Linked DNA regions of Homo sapiens. The protein of the gene in region 4 purifies or fractionates together with the protein of the main gene of each other region. This does not show direct contact. Each region holds a gene or a part of one and is shown on either strand. Other genes may lie near its edges. The genes, in order: CDC27, FOXM1, PPP2R1B, FOXO3, PINK1 and ARHGEF2.

The links.
Region 1: the proteins of FOXO3 (region 4) and CDC27 purify together in Homo sapiens (affinity purification with mass spectrometry; one large-scale study listed by BioGRID and IntAct). This does not show direct contact.
Region 2: the proteins of FOXO3 (region 4) and FOXM1 purify together in Homo sapiens (co-immunoprecipitation; one study listed by IntAct). This does not show direct contact.
Region 3: the proteins of FOXO3 (region 4) and PPP2R1B purify together in Homo sapiens (affinity purification with mass spectrometry, with the first as the bait; one large-scale study listed by BioGRID). This does not show direct contact.
Region 5: the proteins of FOXO3 (region 4) and PINK1 purify together in Homo sapiens (affinity purification with western blotting; one study listed by BioGRID). This does not show direct contact.
Region 6: the proteins of FOXO3 (region 4) and ARHGEF2 purify together in Homo sapiens (affinity purification with mass spectrometry; one large-scale study listed by BioGRID and IntAct). This does not show direct contact.

What each region holds. Positions count from the first base shown.
Region 1 is NC_000017.11:47,179,296-47,182,795, forward strand, and holds part of CDC27 (cell division cycle protein 27 homolog), read right to left. Parts: intron 2,343-3,500; coding exon 2,267-2,342; intron 1-2,266. UniProt on the Homo sapiens protein: Component of the anaphase promoting complex/cyclosome (APC/C), a cell cycle-regulated E3 ubiquitin ligase that controls progression through mitosis and the G1 phase of the cell cycle.
Region 2 is NC_000012.12:2,867,175-2,870,674, forward strand, and holds part of FOXM1 (forkhead box protein M1), read right to left. Parts: intron 1,581-3,500; coding exon 1,389-1,580; coding exon of another isoform or gene 1,344-1,388; exon of another isoform or gene 1,040-1,343; intron 1-1,039. UniProt on the Homo sapiens protein: Transcription factor regulating the expression of cell cycle genes essential for DNA replication and mitosis. Plays a role in the control of cell proliferation. Also plays a role in DNA break repair, participating in the DNA damage checkpoint response.
Region 3 is NC_000011.10:111,759,890-111,763,389, forward strand, and holds part of PPP2R1B (serine/threonine-protein phosphatase 2A 65 kDa regulatory subunit A beta isoform), read right to left. Parts: intron 1,163-3,500; coding exon 930-1,162; intron 63-929; coding exon 1-62. UniProt on the Homo sapiens protein: The PR65 subunit of protein phosphatase 2A serves as a scaffolding molecule to coordinate the assembly of the catalytic subunit and a variable regulatory B subunit.
Region 4 is NC_000006.12:108,567,417-108,570,916, forward strand, and holds part of FOXO3 (forkhead box protein O3), read left to right. Parts: exon of another isoform or gene 1-133; intron 134-816; exon of another isoform or gene 817-2,326; intron 2,327-3,500. UniProt on the Homo sapiens protein: Transcriptional activator that recognizes and binds to the DNA sequence 5'-[AG]TAAA[TC]A-3' and regulates different processes, such as apoptosis and autophagy.
Region 5 is NC_000001.11:20,643,458-20,646,957, forward strand, and holds part of PINK1 (serine/threonine-protein kinase PINK1, mitochondrial precursor), read left to right. Parts: intron 1-1,032; coding exon 1,033-1,215; intron 1,216-2,102; coding exon 2,103-2,266; intron 2,267-3,500. UniProt on the Homo sapiens protein: Serine/threonine-protein kinase which acts as a sensor of mitochondrial damage and protects against mitochondrial dysfunction during cellular stress.
Region 6 is NC_000001.11:155,961,548-155,965,047, reverse strand, and holds part of ARHGEF2 (rho guanine nucleotide exchange factor 2), read left to right. Parts: coding exon 1-60; intron 61-1,864; coding exon 1,865-2,115; intron 2,116-2,329; coding exon 2,330-2,455; intron 2,456-2,825; coding exon 2,826-2,943; intron 2,944-3,138; coding exon 3,139-3,387; intron 3,388-3,500. UniProt on the Homo sapiens protein: Activates Rho-GTPases by promoting the exchange of GDP for GTP.

The DNA.
Region 1 (3,500 bases), on a different chromosome or scaffold from region 4:
CAAACAGGTTACATCTAGCATATCAACTGATATTGTCCACCAAGAAAACTGTTGCCAAGAATTCTGAGGTTGGTTCAGTGGGAATGAGTACTGTAATGGATTAGTGATGCCTACTATGGTTGCAAATCAGAGAAGTGGTAATTGCTACTCTTGGGAAAGCGGAATCAGACAGATTACTAGTTACCGCCTGTGGACATTAGTCTCAGTTCTTCATCCAGAAAATGGCAATAGCAATGTCTATTTGATAGGATTATTGAAGATTAAATTAGTAACTAATATTAAATACTTAGAGTACCTAGTATACAGTAAGAAATCAATAAGTGATAGAATTATTGTTATTATTACTGAGCCAGGATAGTATCTGCTCTTACTACACTTAATTCTAAAATCTTTCCTCATATAAATATGGTTAAACCGAATGGTGAGGTTCTATATTGAAAGAAACTAACATTTACTGAGCAACTTTCCAAGTGCCAAGCATTGTATCAGGTACATAAATAACGTGGATTAAACAGCTTTATGTGGACTAATCTGGGAATCTTGCCACCAATTCTATGGGAAAATCTAATTGAATTCTAAACCATGAATTTACAATTTTTAAGAGCCTAACTATAATAAACTAGAAACTGCCTATTCTTTAATAATAAACAAAAACAAAAAGGAAATACTAGAAATAGAAGACAGTGGCCGAGTACAGTGGCTCACATCTGTAACTCCAGCTCTTTGGGAGGCTGAGGCAGGAGGATCACTTCAGTCCAGGAGTTCAAGGCTGCAGTGAGCTATGATTGTGCCACTGTACTCTAGCCTGGGCGACAGAGTGAGATTCTGACTCAACAAAAATTTTTAAAAATACAGCAAAATATGGGGCCTGCCTAGGTATCAATGAAAATATTTTTAAATAGATTATTCACAATAAACATCACTTTTGCATAAGTGAATGGAGTAGATTAATCTATTGTATAATCTTCTTTCTAAGCCTTCCATTCCTTCTCACCTTTCTAATCTTTTCATTGGGACCTTAAACTCCTGCTGCCCAGATCTTCCTCACTTTTCTCACTGAATTCCCATTCTCCACCGAGGAGACAGCTCTCTCACATGGACAGTAATCACCTTACATCCCACTATCTCAGAGTCAAGGTAAGGCTGGTTTCCACTTAACTTCTCAAAACTACTTCCAAGCATTGCTCTTTGTCCTTTTGTGAAATTTCCTGCCCCTGAGGTTTAGGCCTTGTTCTCACAACTCTCAGCTACTAAACCCATACTGTTTGACTTGTAAATTCCATTTAAAAGTACATAACCCAAGGAAATGACTCAAAAAAAAAAAAAAGCTGTACACAATGATCTATATCAGCATCTTAGAAAGGGAATTATAATAATGACAGAAACAAAACATACATTATCAGTGGTGTTTATTAAGCATTGATTACCAAGCCAGATGGCTGTGCTAAGGGCTTTAAATAAACCATCTCATTGAATTTTTAATTCTAAGGGGCAATGATTATTTTATAGATGAAATATCTGAATTTTCAGATATTAAAGTAACTCGTCCAAGGTTATAAAACTGTACATTTAAGTGACAGGTTAGGATTTGTTCCAAGGCTATAGAGTCTAAATCCATGTTCTTCACCATAGAATACAGACTCTTTTCTTAAAAAAAAAAAAAAAAAAAAAAAATACATGGCATGGTGGCCCATGAGTATAATCCCAGCACTTTGGGAGGCCAAGGCAGGTGGATCACCTAAGCTCAGGAATTTGAGACCAGCCTGGGCAACATAGCAAAACCCTATCTCTACCAAAAAAAAAAAAAAAATTAGCCAGGCGTGGTGGTCCGTGCCTGCGGTCCCAGCTACTTGGGAGGCTGATGTGGGAGGATCGCTTGAGCCTGGGAGGTAGAGGTTGCAGTGAGCTGAGATGGTCCCACTGTACTCCAACATGGGTGACAGAGTGAGACCCTGTTTCAAAAAAAAAAAAAAAAAAAAAAAAAAAAAAAACCCAAAACAACAAAAACCCTGGGGGAAAAAAAAACCTAAAGATTGAAAAATGATTAAGTAAATCATAGCATATAAACCTGAATCAATTCTACATAGTTATTAAAAGTAGTATGTAAGGGAACTACACAGAAAAAAAGTAAAGATTTTATGAACTAGTGTCAATCAGAAAAACAACAAGATGATGATAGCTAGAATCTTGTTACAGTGATAAAAAGTTATGGAATTTCATATATGTTATTCATTTATCATTCTACAGCAATGAATAGATTTCAAACCTTCTGCATAAAGGCGTTCTGCGAGGAAAACCGCATCTCGGTAAGCATAGTGGTTTAGTGCTTGCCATATAGCAGCCTGCAAATGGAGGAAAAAGAACATAAATATACATACATACAGACTTTCAAGGTAACTACTAGCACACAGCCTTACATCAAATACTGAAATTAATATCCCTAATTTAAGTGATAAAACCCCAATGCCCACAGAGCAAACTCCAGAGTGTGCCGGGCAAGGCTCTTCACAGTATGGCTCCTAACATATCTGAATTTCCTCACTCAACTCTCTATGGACTTTTAGGCTTCTGTGCCTTTGTACACCCTTTTCCTCCATTGGGCAATGTGGGCTCCCCTCACCAGTCTCCCCTTATAAACTGCTCGTCCCTAAAGATCCAGCTTAAATAACATCTGCCCCATAAAGCTTTCCTGGCTGATGTCAAGCCATTTCTTTTTTAAGATACCTCTTCTAGTAGAGCACTCATAACATGGTTATTTGTTAACAGGACTGCCAACCCTACTAAACTACAGACTTTTAGCAGCAGTGGTTCTCAACCACTTTATGTGATATACATGACAGAGATATTAAAATGTATGTCATCCTCCCACAAAAACTTCCCTATCTATTACCTTTAATGCCACTCAATTCTCATCCACTCCAGGAAGCATATTGGAATGCAAATGAGTAAAGTTATCATAGGAATAACTTTTAATTTTTTGAATATATGTTTTCTCTTTTAGAATTACAAAACATATAACCTAAAGTATATATGAGATAGAAGGACATTTTAAGTAACAATAACCAAAGACATTTAGGCCCATGTACTCACCACCCAGCTTAAGAAATAAAATATCTCTGAAACTCCCTGTGTGTTCCTTGTTGATACCAAAACCTCTCCCTGCCCCAAAGAGGAAACCACCACACTGAATTTTCTTGACCTTTCTCTTGGTTTTCTTCACAATTTTATACATTTGTACATATCATCTCTAAGCAGTATAACATTTACTTTTTCCTGTTTTTGAACTTTAAATAAATACAATCATATTGTATACATTCTGCTACGATTTGCTTTTGAAATCCAATGTTTTGAAAATTCATTCTTGATGTGTGTAGCTAGAGTTCATTTGTTTTCATTGCTGAATAAATAATATTTCCATTGTATAAACATATCAAAATCCAAAATGTATTTTATCTATTTTACAGCATGTGGACATTTGGGTTATTTCTAGGGTGTTTTTT
Region 2 (3,500 bases), on a different chromosome or scaffold from region 4:
GAAATTAAGGCTGGGTGTGGTGGCTCACGCCTGTAATCACAGTGCACTGAGAGGCTAAGGCAGGAGGAGTGCTTGAGACTAGGAGTTCAGACCAGCCTGGGCAACATAGTAACCAGCCTGGGCAACTGTCTCTACAAAAAAAAAATTAGCGGACTGTGGTGGTGCACCTGTTATCCCAGCTACTTGGGATGTTGAGGAGGGAAGAGCTTGAGCCCAGGGGGCTGAGGCTGCACTCCAGCCCAGGCAACAGGGTGAGACCCTGTCTCAAAAAACAAACAAACAAAAAACTAGGAAAGTAAGCTGATGGAAGGGAGTAAAATTAAAAGTTCTACCATGAATTAGCCAGGCGTAGTGGCGGGCGCCTGTAGTCCCAGCTACTCGGGAAGCTGAGGCAGGAGAATGGCGTGAACCCAGGAGGCGGAGCTTGCAGTGAGCCGAGATCGCGCCACTGCACTCCAGCCTGGGTGACAGAGCGAGACTCCATCTCAAAAAAAAAAAAAACATAGTTCTACCATGAGGGGCCAGGTGTGGTGGCTCATGCCTGTAATCCCAGCACTTTGGGAGGTCGAGACGGGTGGATCATTTGAGGTTAGGAGTTCGAGACCAGCCTGACCAACATGGTGAAACACTGTCTCTACTAAAAATACAAAAAAATTAGCCAGGCGTGGTGGCGCATGCCTGTAGTCCCAGCTACTCGGGAGGCTGAGGCAGGAGAATCGCTTGAACCTTGGAGGCGGAGGAGGTTGCAGTGACCTGAGATCTGCCATTGCACTCCAGCCTGGGTGACAGAGCGAGACTCTGTCTCAAAAAAAAAAAAAAAAAAAAGAAAGAGTTCTACCATGAGGAAAACAAAGCACACTTGACTTGGAATTGAGCACCCGTCAGAAGACCTCATTTGTGGCTCTGACACCGACCAACTGCGTGAGCTATGTTGACTCACAGGCATCTCGGTCTTTCCATGAATGAAGTGAAAGGAAAACCCCTGCCCACTAGAAATGCTATGTGACGCTACAGGAGATGACATCTTGGGTCATGAGGCTCACAGACAGCATTTTTTTTTTTAATCAAGACATTTTCATAAAACTACTTAGCCACTCTAGCTGCTGGCATCTAGGACGGCTGTTGAGTGTAGCAGAAAAGTGGGCTTGAGTGCTACATTGAAGACCCTCCATGGACTTTAGGTAGTAACACATGAAGTAGTTAAGGAGCTCTTCTTAATGATTTTGCCTGGATTCAATAAGATTGAGTCACAATCTAAAAGATACATTTGTTTATCATTCTAGTGTCCTTTGCACTTAACTGCTGTCCCAGATACAAGTTGCAGTACAGCACTGGAGAGACTGTCAGGCTGGGCTGACCTTGATTTTGGTTGCTGTGGGACACATTACCTTCCAGCCTGGCTTGGCAATGTGCTTAAAGTAGGGAAAGTGGTCCTCAATCCACGTATAGATGTCTTTCAAAGTCATGCGCTTCCTCTCAGTGCTGTTGATGGCGAATTGTATCATGGCCATGTAAGAGTAGGGTGGCCGCTCAGACACAGAGTTCTGCCAGGACGCTGATGGTCTCGAAGGCTCCTCAACCTGAGGGTTATGACACAGGGAATGACATGAAAGAGTTCATGAGAAGCACCCCCAACCCAAGCCCTTGAAGAACATCTAGAGAAACCTTTATCCCATAGGACGGTCTAGAAACAAACTCATCTGAGACCACTATCTCATAGAATAAAATTTTAGAGTTGGGAAGAATCTTGGAGATGATCTAGCCTAGACCCTAGCCAATAAGAAACTGGTTTTGTCATCCATCATTTTGTTGAATTTGGAGAAAATCCAGTCCCTTCCAGTTGAAATTTCTTAGGAAAGTTTGAGTATGTACTTTGATTCTCAAAGCATTGATGTTACACTAAAACCACGCCCGTTTTTCAGACTTTTGGGTCTAGAAACCTAGGTCTTAGTCCCATTTCTGTTCCTGATGTGCTGTGAATAAACGCATCTCATTTCAATGTTTGTATGAGAGAAACATTCTCAAGACTATGAGTCAGACAATGTCTGCAAAGCACACAGTTAGCTAAGTTTTAGGCAAAGAGCTGATCAATCACATTTCTTTTTCTTTTTTTGAGACAGGGTCTCACTGTGTCACCCAGGATAGCGTGCAGTGGCTGGATCACAGCTCACTGCAGCCTTGACCTTCCCAGGCTCAGGTGATCCTCCTGTCTCAGCCTCCAAGTAGCTGGGACTACAGGCATACACCACCACGCCCAGCTAATTTTTTTTTTTTTTTTGAGATGGAGTTTCACTCTTGTTGCCCAGGCTGGAGTACAATGGTACGATCTCGGCTCACTGCAACCTCTGCCTCCTGGGTTCAAGCGATTCTCCTGCTGCAGCCTCCCAAGTAGCTGAGATTACAGGTGCCTGCCACCACGCCCAGCTACTTTTTTTGTATTTTTAGTAGAGATGGGGTTTACCATATTGGCCAGGCTAGTCTCGAACTCCTGACCTCAGGTGATCCACCCACCTTGGCCTCCCAGAGTGATGGGATTACAGGCATGAGCCATTGCGCCTGGCGATTTTTTTTTTTTTTTTCGTATTTTTAGTAGTAGAGACCAGGATTTTGCTATGTTGCCCAGGCTGGCCTAGAACTTACGGGCTCAAGCAATCTGCCCACCTTGGCCTCCCAAAGTGCTGGGATTACAATTGTCAGCCGCTATGCCCGGTCTCATTCACATTTTTAAAATTGGAGATATTACTTTCTAAAGTACACAAATTTTATGTATATAGCACAATTAATATTTACTTACATATACACGCATGTAAATTTTCACTTTTTTTTTTTTTTTGAGACAGAGTTTCACTTTTGTTGCCCAGGTTGGAGTGTAATGGCACGATCTTGGCTCACCGCAAGCTCTGCCTCCTGGGTTCAAGTGATTCTCCTGCCTCAGCCTCCCGAGTAGCTGGGATTATAGGCATGTACTACTGCACCCAGCTAATTTTGTATTGCTAGTAGAGGCGGGGTCAGGCTGGTCTGGAACTCCCGACGTCAGGTGATCCACTCACCTTGGCCTCCCAAAGTGCTGTGATTACAAGCATGAGTTATCGCGCCTGGCCAAATTTTCACTTTTAAAGATTGTTGAGCTGGAGGCTATGATCCTAAGCGATTTAATGCAGGAACAGAAAACCAAATATTGCATGTTCTCACTTATAAGTAGGAACTAGGCTGGGTACGGTGGCTCACGCCTGTAATCCCAACACTTTGGGAGGCTGAGGCGGGTGGATGACGAGGTCAAGAGATTGAGACCATCCTGGCCACCATGGTGAAACCCCATCTCTACTAAAAATAAAAAAATTAGCCGGGCGTGGTGGCGGGCGCCTATAGTCCCAGCTACTCGGGAGGCTGAGGCAGGAGAATCACTTGAACCTGGGATGCAGAGGTTTCAGTGAGCAGAGATTGTGCCACTGCACTCCAGCCTGGCAACAAAGAGAGAATCCGTCTCAAAAAGAAAAAAA
Region 3 (3,500 bases), on a different chromosome or scaffold from region 4:
ATTTGGAAGCAGCAGCACGTCGTACCATTGGTGTGTCATCTGAGCACAAGGAACGGAATTGCCTGCAACATAAAACAATGAAGGTATTTCCCATCAAATAACACTGAATAAACCTGCCCCCCATACACACAGACAGACTTTTAGAGGTTTTATCTTACAATAATCAGTGACTAAGCTTCTACTTATAGAAGTAACAAAAATAAAACATATTCAACTGGATAATAAAAAATGACATCATAGGCCAGGCATGGTGCCTCACACCTGTAATCAAAGCACTTTGGGAGGCCCAGGTAGGAGGACTGCTTGAGGCCAGGAATTGAAAGCAGACTGGGCAACATAGCAAGACCCTATCTATATGCCAAAAATATTTTTGTTGTTGTTTGTCGGGGGCTCAAGTGAACTCCCACCTCAGCCTTCTGAGTAGCTAGAAATACAGGCGGGTCCCACCATGCCCAGCTAATTTTTTTCTTTTTAGTAGAGACAAGGTCTCACTATGTTGCTCAAGCTGGTCTTGAACTCCTGAGTTCAAGCAATCCTCCCACCTCAGCCTCTCAAAGTGCTGGGATTACAAGCATGAGCCACTGCATCCAGCCAGAAATTTTTTTTAAAAATTAGCCAGGCGCAGTAGTGTATGTCGGTAGTCCTAGCTACTTGGAGGCTGAGGCTGGAGGATCACTTAAGCACAAGAGTTCAAGGTTGCAGTGAGCTATGATTGTGCCACCGCACTCCAGCCTAGACAACAGAGCAAGACCTTATCTCTTAAAAAAAAAAAAGAAAGATGTCATAAATCCTACTATCCTAGTATCAGCCACTCATTGGTAACAAGGTACTATGTAAATTGTCAGCTACAAGTCCCCAGTAATCCCAAATAACTCATAGCTTACTACCTGATTTCTGCTTTAACAAGGCAAAAAAATACCATGGCTTACTGTCTGATTTCTGCTTTAACAGCATTTGATGCCCTGGGATAGCAAACGCTGAACAAACCACATGCAGATGTGCGAGAGGTGAACCAATCCCCACTTGCTAAGCGTTTCACCAGAGGTACAAAATAAGCTTCCAGAGCAACAGGAGTATGCTCCTGGGAGATCTGTCTCAGGGACTCCACAGCCTTGTCACGAACAACAGTCTCTTCCACAGTTGCCAGATTTTCCAAAGGAGGCTGAATGGATTAAAAAGGAAAACCAGAGAAGAAAACTTATTGAATCAGGTTAGAAACAGATAATCACCTTTTAAAGTGACTGAAGGGAGGTGGTACACGTAACCAGAATGTTAGCTGCATCATACCAAATGGTTACTTTCAGCTCACACAGTGATAACATATGGTGCGGCCAACCCAAAGACACGACTTCTGTAGAAAAGCCAAGATCTCGTGTCCCAGATGGCAATTCCCAGATGGTGTCTACAAATGACACAGTGTAAAAGACTTGACACAATATTAATATTACTGTGAGTTGAATCACTAGGTTTAAAAGATACATAGCCAAATTCAGACAGGATCATGTATATTTCCTCAAGAGTAAGTACAAAACTATGACCAATGTTAGGCACCACAAATACAGGATAACAGCTTGTCAGGTCACTGAGTCCACAGCCTTTTCAGTATCTTTCCACCATTCCCAGAGGTGCAAGCAACCCTTATCCACCATCTCCATCCCATCCTTTTATCCAACCTATAAAATGCTGAATGCAAAATTGCTTTTTTCAGAACACATTCAGCAACTTTCCATTAGCCATAGGGCAGAAAGGAGTTTCTGACAGAACAATCAAGTGAAAACTACAGAGACTGGCCAGGCACGGTGGCTCACACCTGTAATCCCAGCCGTCGGGAGGCCGAGGTGGGCAGATCACTTGAGGTCAGGAGCTCGAGACCAGCCTGGCCAACATGGTGGAACCCTGTCTCTACAAAAAATACAAAAATTAGCCAGACATGGTGGCACACGCCTGTAAACCCAGCTTACTCAGGAGGCTGAGGCATGAGAATCACTTGAACCCGGGAGGCAGAGGTTGCAGTGAGCCGAGATTGTGCCACTGTACTTGAGCCTGGGTGACAGAGTGAGGCTCTTGTCTCAAAAAAAAAAGGTAAAGTACAGAGATGGTAGGACACCTTGCTTACAGCTTTAGAAATAAAAGAAGCCAAATGGGGTGGATGGTCTGGATTAAGAGCAGTAACTGAATATGGCATGGCCTAGTAAAAAGTGTAAACAGGCTGGCTCTCTGAACCTCTGCCTTACTGAGTTTGCATGTAGTCCAGGTAGATTCTACACATGCCATGAGCTACAGATTTTAAAGCATAAAACCCACATATAGAACTAACCAAGAGTGAAACAGAAGCATAATGAGTTAAAGAAAAGAAGTGTGTCTAATAATATATTTTAAAAATTGTTTGATACACACAGGTAGACAGTATTCAGCTTTCCTAGAAGGTATTTCAGAAACTCATTGAAAAGATACTGTTTCTCACTTGCCAATGCATTTCATGATCTGTCCCCTGCCTACTGTAACCCCCTCTCGTGCAGTACCACTGGATAATAGCTATCATTACTACAGGATGAGGCCATGCTCCTGAGAATTGCTTATGAGTGGTCTCTTGATTTGAACTCTGCCTGGCCCTTGATGACCACTCTGCCTACCCAGCCTCAACACTTCACACTCCAGCAGTTCTTTTTTTTTTTTTTTTTTAAGAGACAGGGTCTTGCTCTGTTGCCCAGGCTGAAGTGCAGTGGCACAATCATGGCTCAGTGCGGCCTCAGACTCCTCGTCCTTCTGCCTCAGCGTCCCGAATAGCTAGGACTCAGACACATGACATCATGCCCAGCTATTTTTTTTTAAGTGTTGGGGTCTCACTATGTTGCCCAGGCTGATCTTGAACTCCTGGCCTCAAGCAATCCTCCTGCTGCTTTGGCCTCCCAAGGCAAGGATTACAGGTGTGAGCCACCACACCCAGCCACACTCCGGCAGTTTTGAACCCAGCCTGTTTCATGCTTCCAAGCCTCTGAAACTCATTTTTTCAATACATTATTATTGGTATATTCTAGCATTGAGGACACAGAAGAAACAAGGCAGACAAGGTTCCTCACTCTAGTGGCATTTACATTCTAATGGAGTAAGACAACAATCAATCAAGAAAATAAGTAGATGGTGATGAGTACTCTATAGAAAAAAGGAGTAGGATGATGTAGTAAGGGATGACTGTGAGGCTATTTTAAGTTGAGTGGTTGGGGAAAACCTCCCTGAGGAGATGCATTGAAGTTGATCCCTGAATGACAAGGAGCCAGCCACAGAAAGCTTGAAAGAGCTTTTCATTAGAGGGAAGACCTAGGGCAAAGGTCCTAAGGGAATAATGAGCTTGGTTAGTTCAAAAAACAGAAAGATGACCAATGTGAATGGAAGAGGTTATCAAGGCCTTTTGCAGTCTGTTCCCTGCCTACTGTCACCTCTTCTCATGCAGTACCACTGGGCATATGATAATCCTACAGAGGCGGGTCATAAAAAGCCTT
Region 4 (3,500 bases):
GCCTGATGTAGATCTGGCCTTCCTCTGGAGTGGATGTGGAGCCTTGATGCCACTGACTCATCTGTATTACTTGTTGCCTAAAACTCAGAACTAAAAGAGATCTTAAAGATCATCTAACTACCTTATTTTGCAGGTGAGAAACATGCTAGGACTATGTGAGTGACTGGGTTCAGGGTTCCACAGCTAGTAGGGGTGGAGTAACGGGTGTGTCCAGTCAGTGCAGTGGTTCATGCCTATAATTTTAACACTTTGGGAGGCCAAGGCAGGAGGATTGCCTGAGGCCAGGAGTTTGAGACCAGCCTGGGCAACAAAGTGAGACCTCGTCTCTACCAGAAAAAAAGAAAACTAGGCCAGGTGCGGTGGCTCATGCCTGTAATCCCAGCACTTTGGGAGGCCCAGGTGGGTGGATCACCTGAGGTCAGGAGTTCGAGACCAGCCTTACCAACATGGTGAAACCCTGTCTCTACTAAAAGTACAAAAAGCTAGCCGGGCATCGTGGCGCATGCCTGTAATCCCAGCTACTAGGGAGGCTGAGGCAGGAGAATTGCTTGAACCTGGGAGGCGGAGGTTGCAGTGAGCCAAGATTGTGCCGTTGCACTCCAGCCTGGGTAACAAGAGCGAAACTCCATCTCAAAAAAAAAAAAAATTAGCTCTGTTGTGGTGGTGCATGCCTGTAGTCCCAGCTGCTTGAGAGGCTGAGGCAGGAGGATCCCTTAATCCCAGGAGTTTGAGACTGCAGTGAGCACGACTGCACCACTGCACTCCAGCCTGGATGACAGAGTGAGACCCTCTCTCTCTCTTTTTTTTTTTTTTTTAAAGCGTGTGTTCATACCACTGTACTGTAGTGTCTACTGCCTACCATTGTGGTTTCACAGCTGTTCATCTCAGTGCTGTTTGCCTCAAGTTCTTCAAGCTCTTCACTTGCTGTCTTCTGCTTCTCCTCCCCTCTTCTAGGCTAGCTCGCACTGGAGTCGCTGTGTTTCTCCTTTTGTGTTCTCCATCAGCACTCTCTACTTACCTTGCTAAATGCCTTTTCTTTCAACGCCACCTTACCCTGCCCACCCCATGGCTGCTACCTGTTTATTTTGTCATTTTGCTAAGACTGTTGAATATTTTTAAGCACAGTATAAGAGGCTTTAAATTAGGGAATGTGTCTGCCAGACAAATAAGTGTTTCTAATATTTGGAGCTGCTTTTTGGATTTTATAATCAACCCATATGGATAGCCTTAGTTCTGGGGCTGTGACTCTGAAAGGGGCTGATGTGACTCAGGAGTGAGCTGGTGTCATGAGTGGAGTCTTTTGGATACTTGCAGCTCTGAAGGTGGCATCAGCTTTAGACCTCCTAGCATCGATGTTGATGTGATGTGGTGTAAATGTGAGATGATGCTGTGCTATCTGGGGTTTCTTGCAGTGCCTTGTTACCCAATGCATAAGTCTCTGAAAACTCCATAAGTGTCCATCACTACTTACCACAGAAACTGAAGGAAGCCTGATCTTGGGATGACCTTGTTGCATTAAGAGAAAAAGGAAATGAAGTTTGCCATCTGTATGTAAACCCGCTATTTGTATCATCAACATGCAGTGTCGAGAAAGTCACCATAGAATTGTTTTGCCTAAAGTTTATTTTACTCACTTTTAGGAACAAAGCTGTTATGTAAAGCCTTAGTTGTTTGTAATGTTCTGCATTTTGGGGCAGAAGTCCCAAATGTACTTCAAGTTTTCTGTCCATGGATTGGGAAATAGAAGTCATGTATGAAAGGAGAGGAGATAGCAGACAGTCTTTGAGATGAACTATTTCAAGGACCAGTCTGCAGTTCTTCCAAGTTAGAGTTCTGAATATGTGGTTAGGCTAGTGATGATGATAGAACACCCCAGTTCTGACTGCATCATTGCCCAGACAGACCCAGTATCTTTCACCATTTTATTCCTGACCAAACAACGTTCATTTCCCAGTATCTTAGTCTCTCCTAAAGGAAAAAGAACTACGGTAGCTGGCATCCATAGAGTACTGTGATGTACCACTCTTGGTAAAACGGAAATGTCTGATTGGAGTGTGTTTCAAGCCAGGCTTTTCTATAATTCGCTTGTTCCACTTTTCACTCCTGAGTTTTTGAGGTTTTAATCTTGAGACTTTTTCTCTGCAGTGCCTCAGTTACTACTATGGAATAACATAATAAGCGAAGAGGATGACTTCTCTGCTGGGCTGTGGTTCTTCTAGTAATTCCGCTACTCCTGGGTCATTGCCTGGGGTGAGGAGGCCAGGTTATCTTCTGGAGGCTCACCACACCTTGGTGTCCAGATGTGCCCTAGGACTGCAGTGGAGAGGTGAGCACAGAGTAAGGAAAGCATGTGGCACATGTGTAGGGGGCAAGGCTGGAGCAGGAAGTAAACTCTCCCCCAAACAAACAAATAAACAAACAGCATACATTACCTTCCTTCTGGAGTGAACCTATAGTAAACCCAACAGAGATGTGTTTGGCAGTTTTCAGTACGTGTTTAGGAATTTGTTTGAAAACCATTAGGGGGTGGGGTGGGGTGGAAGAATCCACATCATGTTTTCCCTTGCGTGGTTTTTTTTTTTTTTTTTTTTTTTTTTTTTTGAGACAGAATCTCGCTCTGTCGCCTAGGCTGGAGTGCAGTGGCGTGATCTTGGCTCACTGCAAGCTCCGCCTCCTGGGTTCATGCCATTCTCCTGCCTCAGCCTCCCAAGTAGCTGGGACTGCAGGCGTTCGCCACCACTCCCAGCTAATTTTTTGTATTTTTATTAGAGACGGGGCTTCACTGTGTTAGCCAGGATGGTCTTGATCTGCTGACCTCATGATCTGCCTGCCTCGGCCTCCCAAAGTGCTGGGATTACAGGCATGAGCCATTGCACCCGGCTCCCTTGTGTATTTTTATTTTAAATTTTTTATTTGAGACAAGGCCTTGCTCTGTCACCTAGGCTGGAGTGCGGTGGCACAATCATAGCTCTCCACAGCTTCAAACTCCTGGCTCTCTCTGTAGAGAGCTATGATCCTCCTGCCTCAGCTGCCCTAGTAGCTGGGACTACTAATGAGCGCCACGACACCCAGCTAATTTTATGTTTTTTTTGTAGAGATATGAGGTCTCACTTTGTTGCCAGGTTGGTCTCAAACTCCTGGGTTCAAGCGATCCTCTTACTTGGGCCTCCTAAAGTGCTGGGATTATAAACATGAGCCCCTGCAACCAGCCTTCCTTGTATTTCAGATGTCTAGTGAAGTTAGTTAAGTTAGCCCTTGAAGGTATTGAGAATTTACTTTAAATTCAGAGCCAGCAGAGGGAGTACACAAGTCTTTAAGCTGATGTCAAGTATTTTTTTCTCCACACAGCTAAAATAATACCTTGATTATTTTTTAAAGAACTCTGATATATAGTGTTTCCATGTAAGTTTATTGTCATCATTAGAAAAGGAAAATTTAGGAGAGGGGGTGTGGAGATTAAAAACTTAAAGCAAGTGTTTTAAAGGAAACCCTGGTCTTCT
Region 5 (3,500 bases), on a different chromosome or scaffold from region 4:
TCTATGCCAACTACTGTACTAGACTTGGAATAATGGAGAAAATTCAGGCACAGTCCTTGCTCTTAGGGAGCTCACATGATTACTCATTGATGAATATCTCTCTCCCCTGATAGACTGCAAATCCATGAGGACAGGGACTCTGTCTTGTTCTGTGCCATAGTTCCACAGCATTCCAGCATGATGTCTGGTACTCAGCATGCAAACAGTGCGTATTGGTTGAATGAATAATAGTACAGCTAATAGCAGCTGAGAGCTTCCTCTGTGCTAGACACGATTCTAGGTGCCTTCCACACTTTGACAACCTTATGCAGCGTGTTAACACTGCATTCCCCTTGCACCCTGGAGATTGAGCCCAGAGAAGATAAGGACAGAGGGGACACATTCCAAGATAGATCCCCCAGTGGATGCCTGAAGCCACAGATAGTAACAAACCCTATATATACTGTGTTTTTTCCTATACACACATACCTATGGTAAAGTTTAATTTATAAATTAGGCACAGTAAAAAATTAAAGATAACTAATAAAATAGAATAATTATGACAATATACTGTAATAAAAGTTATGTGAATGTGGTCTCTCTCTCTCTCCTCTCTCTAAATATCTTCTTGTACTCACCTATTCTCAAACTGTAGATAACTGAAATTGCAGAAAGCAAAACTGTGGATAAGGTTGGGGCTACTGCAACTCAGCCAAGGACTTACAGTGGCAGACCTGGAATGCAAACCCAGGCAGTCTGATACCAGGGTTTCTCCACCTGTGTTCTGCCACATGGGATGGATAGGATGGATGGGTGTACGGATGGACGGACGGACAGACGGATGGACAAATGGATTGAAGGATGGGTAGGGGAGTCATCAGATGTGTTCTCCAACACCATGTACAGTACCTGGCACATAGCAAATCTATGATAAACATTTGATAGTAAGTGAATAATGAATGTCAGTGCCAGTGTTGGTGTGGCCTTAGGTTATTCTTTCCAGGTGTTGTATCTGATGCTGGCCTCATATGTTTGTCTCACTTGGCTGACTAGAAAATCCAAGAGAGGTCCCAAGCAACTAGCCCCTCACCCCAACATCATCCGGGTTCTCCGCGCCTTCACCTCTTCCGTGCCGCTGCTGCCAGGGGCCCTGGTCGACTACCCTGATGTGCTGCCCTCACGCCTCCACCCTGAAGGCCTGGGCCATGGCCGGACGCTGTTCCTCGTTATGAAGAAGTAAGTGACAGCAGCGCGGCAGGGCCTGGAGCTGATACATCTCCCAAGGGGAGCTGGTTCCTGCCCTCCATGTGCACCTTGATCAGGGGGTTTTGGAGAACAGGGTCATCACCCTTCCGGAGAAGAAAGCCATGCAAAGGGAACATATCTGCCCTGGAGAGCATTTTCCCTGTAGGACGATTTTTCATGGAAACAAACTCTCATCTTCATCCAGAACATACTTGTCACCTAGTCCTTTTGGTCCATTTGACTGTTAACCTTTTCTGTGGCTGGACTTATCTGTTTTTAACATAAAAACCGTTCTCCTTCCTCACCCTCTGTATCCCCTAACTTTGCTATAGTGGGTATTTTATTTTAAGGAAATAATTATCTGCACCATTACTTTGAATATAGGGAGCCCCAACTCTTACTTCCTAATTTGAGGATGGTGAGTGGGAGGGAACAGAAAGGATGCTGGGGAAAAGTGGGAATCAAAGTGCTCCTGGAAGGGGAAGAGGAACGGCCTAACCCTAACAGTGATTAAGGTTATTAGGAGGCCGGGAATGGTGGCTGACGCCTGTAATCCCAGCACTTTGGAAGGCGGAGGTGGGTAGATCACTTGAGGTCAGGAGTTTGAGACCAGCCTGGCCAACATGATGAAACCCTGTATCTACTAAACATACAAAAATTAGCCTGGTGTGGTGGCGGGCACCTATAATCCCAGCTACTCGGGAGGCTGAGGTAGGAGAATTGCTTGAACCTGGAAGGTGGAGGTTGCAGTGAGCCAAGATCGTGCTACTGCACTCCAGCTTGGCGACAGAGTGAGACTCCATCTCAAAAAAAAAAAAAAAAACGTATTGGGAGTCGTCGATGTGTGGTAGCCAGAGGCCCTCTCCCCTCTCCGCCAGCTATCCCTGTACCCTGCGCCAGTACCTTTGTGTGAACACACCCAGCCCCCGCCTCGCCGCCATGATGCTGCTGCAGCTGCTGGAAGGCGTGGACCATCTGGTTCAACAGGGCATCGCGCACAGAGACCTGAAATCCGACAACATCCTTGTGGAGCTGGACCCAGGTAGGAACCTGCTGCACCATCAGAGCTCTCCAGGGGCACTAGAGGGTGGGTCAGGAGCATTTAGGACTGACTCTTCAGGTCCTCTCTGGTTTTGTGTTCTAAGTCATGTCTTTATTTAGCTCCGCACACAAGAGGTTAGCAATCTCTCCCTTAGAACGGGGTTTTTTTTTCTCTCTTTGCAGAGAGACAGCACTTCCCAAGTTCCTTTCTCTAGCCCACTTAAAGAACAAGGACCTCAGTGCTGCAAGTTTTCCTAGGTAAATAAAGAGGCCCGGCACAGTGGCTGACACCTGTAATCCCAACACTTTGGGAGGCTTGCTTGAGGATTGCTTGAGGCCAGCAGTTTGAGACCAGCCTGGGAAACAGAGTGAGATCCCTTCTCTACAAAAAAAAAATATGTTTTAAATTAGCCGGAAAAAAAGTTAGCCAGGCATGGTGGCATGCACCTGTAGCCCCAGCTACTTGGGAGGCTGAGGTCGGAGGATCACTTGAGCCTAGGAGTTAAGAGTCTGCAATGAGCTATGAATGTGCCACTGTACTCCAGCCTGGGCAGCAGAGTGAGATCCTATCTCAAAAAAATAATAAAAAATAATAAAGTAAAAGAGAAGTAGACTTTAGCTCATTATAAAAAATAACTTTCGGCCGGGGGTAGTGGCTCACGCCTGTAATCCCAGCACTTTGAGAGGCTGAGGCGGGCAGATCATGAGGTCAAGAGATCGAGACCATCCTGGCCAACATGGTGAAACCCCATCTCTACTAAAAATACAAAAATTAGCTGGGCATGGTGGCGGGCGCCTGTAATCTCAGCTACTTGGGAAGCTGAGGCAGGAGAATTGCTTGAACCCGGGAGGCGGAGGTTGTAGTGAGCCGAGATTGTGCCACTGCATTCCAGCCTGGCGACAGAGTGAGAGTCCATCTCAAAATAAATTAATTAATTAATTAAATTTTTCAAACAATGAAAGCTGTCCAAATGTAAGCCCAGTTGCCTCTGGAAATGAGTTGCCTACCACTGGAAGCATTCAAGTAGAAGCTGAATGGCCACTTGCCTAGGAAAATTGTAAGGAGATTCATACATCTGATAAATTTTTGAACTAGAAGATTTAAAATAATTGACTAGAGGAACTGGCTTTTATTATTTCTTTATTTATTTACTTATTTATTTATTTATTTATTTGAGACAGAATCTTGCTTTGTTGCCCAGGCTGGAGTGCAGTGGCGCCATCTCAGCTCACTG
Region 6 (3,500 bases), on a different chromosome or scaffold from region 4:
ACAGCAGCTTCCTGCAGCAGCATAAAAAGGAGGTGATGAAGCAGCAAGATGTCATCTATGGTAAGCCAAGACCACCCTAGTCTTCCTCTTCCTTCACCAGGTCCTGTTTATCTACTTCCTTCTTTATTTTTCTTTTTCTTTTTTTTTTTTTTTTTGAGATGGAGTCTCACTCTCTCAACCAGGCTGAAGTGCAGTGGCATGATCTCGGCTCACTGCAGCCTCCACCTCCCAGGTTCAAGCGATTCTCATTACAGGCGCCTGCCACCATGCTGGCTAAGTTTTGCATTTTTAGTAGAGACGGGGTTTCACCATGTTAGCCAGGCTGGTTTCAAACTCCTGACCTCAGGTGATCTGCCCGCCTCAGCCTCCCAAAGTGCTGGGATTACAGGCGTGAGCCACCGTACCCGGCTGTGTCCTTCTTTCTACCAGCCCCTACCTCTCAAAACCCTTTCCCTCTTGGCCTACAAGACCCTGCCTGGTATCCCACAGGTTGCCCACTAGGTCCCTACCTCTTGATGCTGTTGGTCTCCAACACCCTCTCTTTATCCCTTCTTTATCTCTGTCTTCAGTCTTTACTCTGTGCTTGTTCCACGCTTAACACCGTGCTGGAGACTGTGGGAAGCCTCGACATGTAGAAGACATATGGTTCTTACCCTAAAATAGCTCACAGCTTGAGATGATAAGGTGTAAAGATAAAAAATGGAACTGGGCGTGGTGGCTCATGCCTATAATCTCAGCGATTTGGGAGGCCGAGGTGGGAGGATCACTTGACGCCAGGATTTTGAGACCAACCTAGGCAACAAAGCAAGACCTCTGTCTCTAAAAAAAAAATATATATATATATATATGTATATATATATATATATATATATATATATATTTTTTTTTTTTTTTTTTTTTTTTGAAGCAGAGTCTTGCTCTGTCGCCCATGCTGGAGTGCACTGGCGCTATCTCGGCTCACTGCAACCTCCGCCTCCCAGGTTCAAGCAATTCTCCTGCCTCAGCCTCCCAAGTAGCTGGGATTACAGGCGCCTACAACTACACCCGGCTAATTTTTGCATTTTTAGTAGAGACAGGGTTTCATCATGTTGGCCAAGCTGGTCTCGAACACCTGACCTCAGGTGATGCACCCGCCTCGGCCTCCCAAAGTGCTGGGATTATAGGCGTGAGCCACCGTGCCCAGCCGTCTTTAAAAAATATTTTAAAAAACTAGTCAGGTGTGGTGGCATGTGCCTATAGTCCCAGCTACTTGGGAGGCTGAGACAGGAGGATCGCTTGAGCCCAGAAGTTCGAGGCTGCAGTGAGTTATCATTGTGCCACTACACTCCAGCCTGGGCACCAGAGTAAGACCTCATTTCTGGAAAAAAAAAAATAATAATAAAATTTTTGAAAGATAAAAATGAGGGCCGGGTGTGGTGGCTCATGCCTGTAATCCCAGCACTTTGGGAGGCCGAGGTGGGGAGATCACGAGGTCAGGATTTCGAGACCAGCCTGACCAATATGAAGAAACCCCATCTCTACTAAAAATACAAAAATTAGCCGGGCCTGGTGGTGCGTGCCTGTAATCCCAGCTACTCAGGAGGCTGAGGCAGGACAACTGCTCGAACCTAGGAGGTGGAGGTTGCAGTGAGCTGAGATCGCGCCATTGCACTCCAGCCTGGGCAATACAGTGAGACTCTGTCTCAAAAAAAAAAAAAAAAAAAGATAAAAATGATTAGAAAAGTATCTAAGATCATAATAATGCAGAATATTAACCTGGAATGGACCTTGAAAACCTCACGTGAACTGTGAGGTCCTTATCCTAGGGCCCCACGAGTTTTAGCCAAGCCAGGGTAGAGGCCAAATGTCCCAATGTCCCCCACAGAGCTAATCCAGACAGAGCTGCACCATGTGAGGACACTGAAGATCATGACCCGCCTCTTCCGCACGGGGATGCTGGAAGAGCTACACTTGGAGCCAGGAGTGGTCCAGGGCCTGTTCCCCTGCGTGGACGAGCTCAGTGACATCCATACACGCTTCCTCAGCCAGCTATTAGAACGCCGACGCCAGGCCCTGTGCCCTGGCAGCACCCGGAACTTTGTCATCCATCGCTTGGGTGATCTGCTCATCAGCCAGGTGGGAAAAGGCAGGACCCCTGGGTGACATTCATGGAAGGAGGTGTGACTGGGTTGGGCATTTCTTGGGTCCAAATTCTAGGGGTTGGAGGGGAGCCAGGGAGAGCTGGAGAAACAGGAAGCCAGCCTGTTTGGCAGGAGGCCAGAGGTGTGTCCAGTGGGTAAAGTGTGGCTTTGGGGGAATGCTGACCTAACCTTACTCGACCAACTTCTAGTTCTCAGGTCCTAGTGCGGAGCAGATGTGTAAGACCTACTCGGAGTTCTGCAGCCGCCACAGCAAGGCCTTAAAGCTCTATAAGGAGCTGTACGCCCGAGACAAACGCTTCCAGCAATTCATCCGGGTGAGCGGACCTCTCCAGATCCCATGCTCATGGCCCAAACCCACCCTCCCCAACTCATGGGGGTAGTGCCTGTGAGCTGCACCCACATGGAGGTCAGGCATTCGCCACCCGTGCAGACCATCCATACACAGATCCTGTCAGCAGTAACCCCTCAGAATGCTAGAGCACGTTGTGGTAGTTTCCCAAGTACTTTTTGCTCCTTCAGTTGGTCCTCACAACAAACCTGTGGCGTTGTTATCCCCATTTTCCAGATATGTCACCTAGGCAAGCATGAGGTAAATGGCCACGCCAGGGCCAGCACCAGAGCTCAGGCCCCAGGCCTTTCTGTTGCCCTCCCCTCTGGCCCTGAGCCCTGCCTCCTCCCTTGTAGAAAGTGACCCGCCCCGCCGTGCTCAAGCGGCACGGGGTACAGGAGTGCATCCTGCTGGTGACTCAGCGCATCACCAAGTACCCGTTACTCATCAGCCGCATCCTGCAGCATTCCCACGGTGAGTAGGCAGGCCCAGGAGAGGGCCACTGGGAGACGGCCACCTGGGGTGAGGAAAGGCTCGGTATGACCACAGGAAGGGTGGGGTCGGGTGTGAAACCCTGGGCAGCCTCTAAAGGTGGAATCAAGACACGATGGGAACTGGGGTGTGAGTGAAACTGGTTGAGCCGTTCCCCATGCCAACCCCCGGTGCCAGGGATCGAGGAGGAGCGCCAGGACCTGACCACAGCACTGGGGCTAGTGAAGGAGCTGCTGTCCAATGTGGACGAGGGTATTTATCAGCTGGAGAAAGGGGCCCGTCTGCAGGAGATCTACAACCGCATGGACCCTCGGGCCCAAACCCCAGTGCCTGGCAAGGGCCCCTTTGGCCGAGAGGAACTTCTGAGGCGCAAACTCATCCACGATGGCTGCCTGCTCTGGAAGACAGCGACGGGGCGCTTCAAAGGTCAGACCTGCTCGGCAGACTAGGCAGGAATTCAAAGTCAGATGGAGAGTGGGAGATGCCTGCAGGTCTTAGAATCAACCTCTCTTGGCCGGGTGCAGTGGCTCAACGCCTGT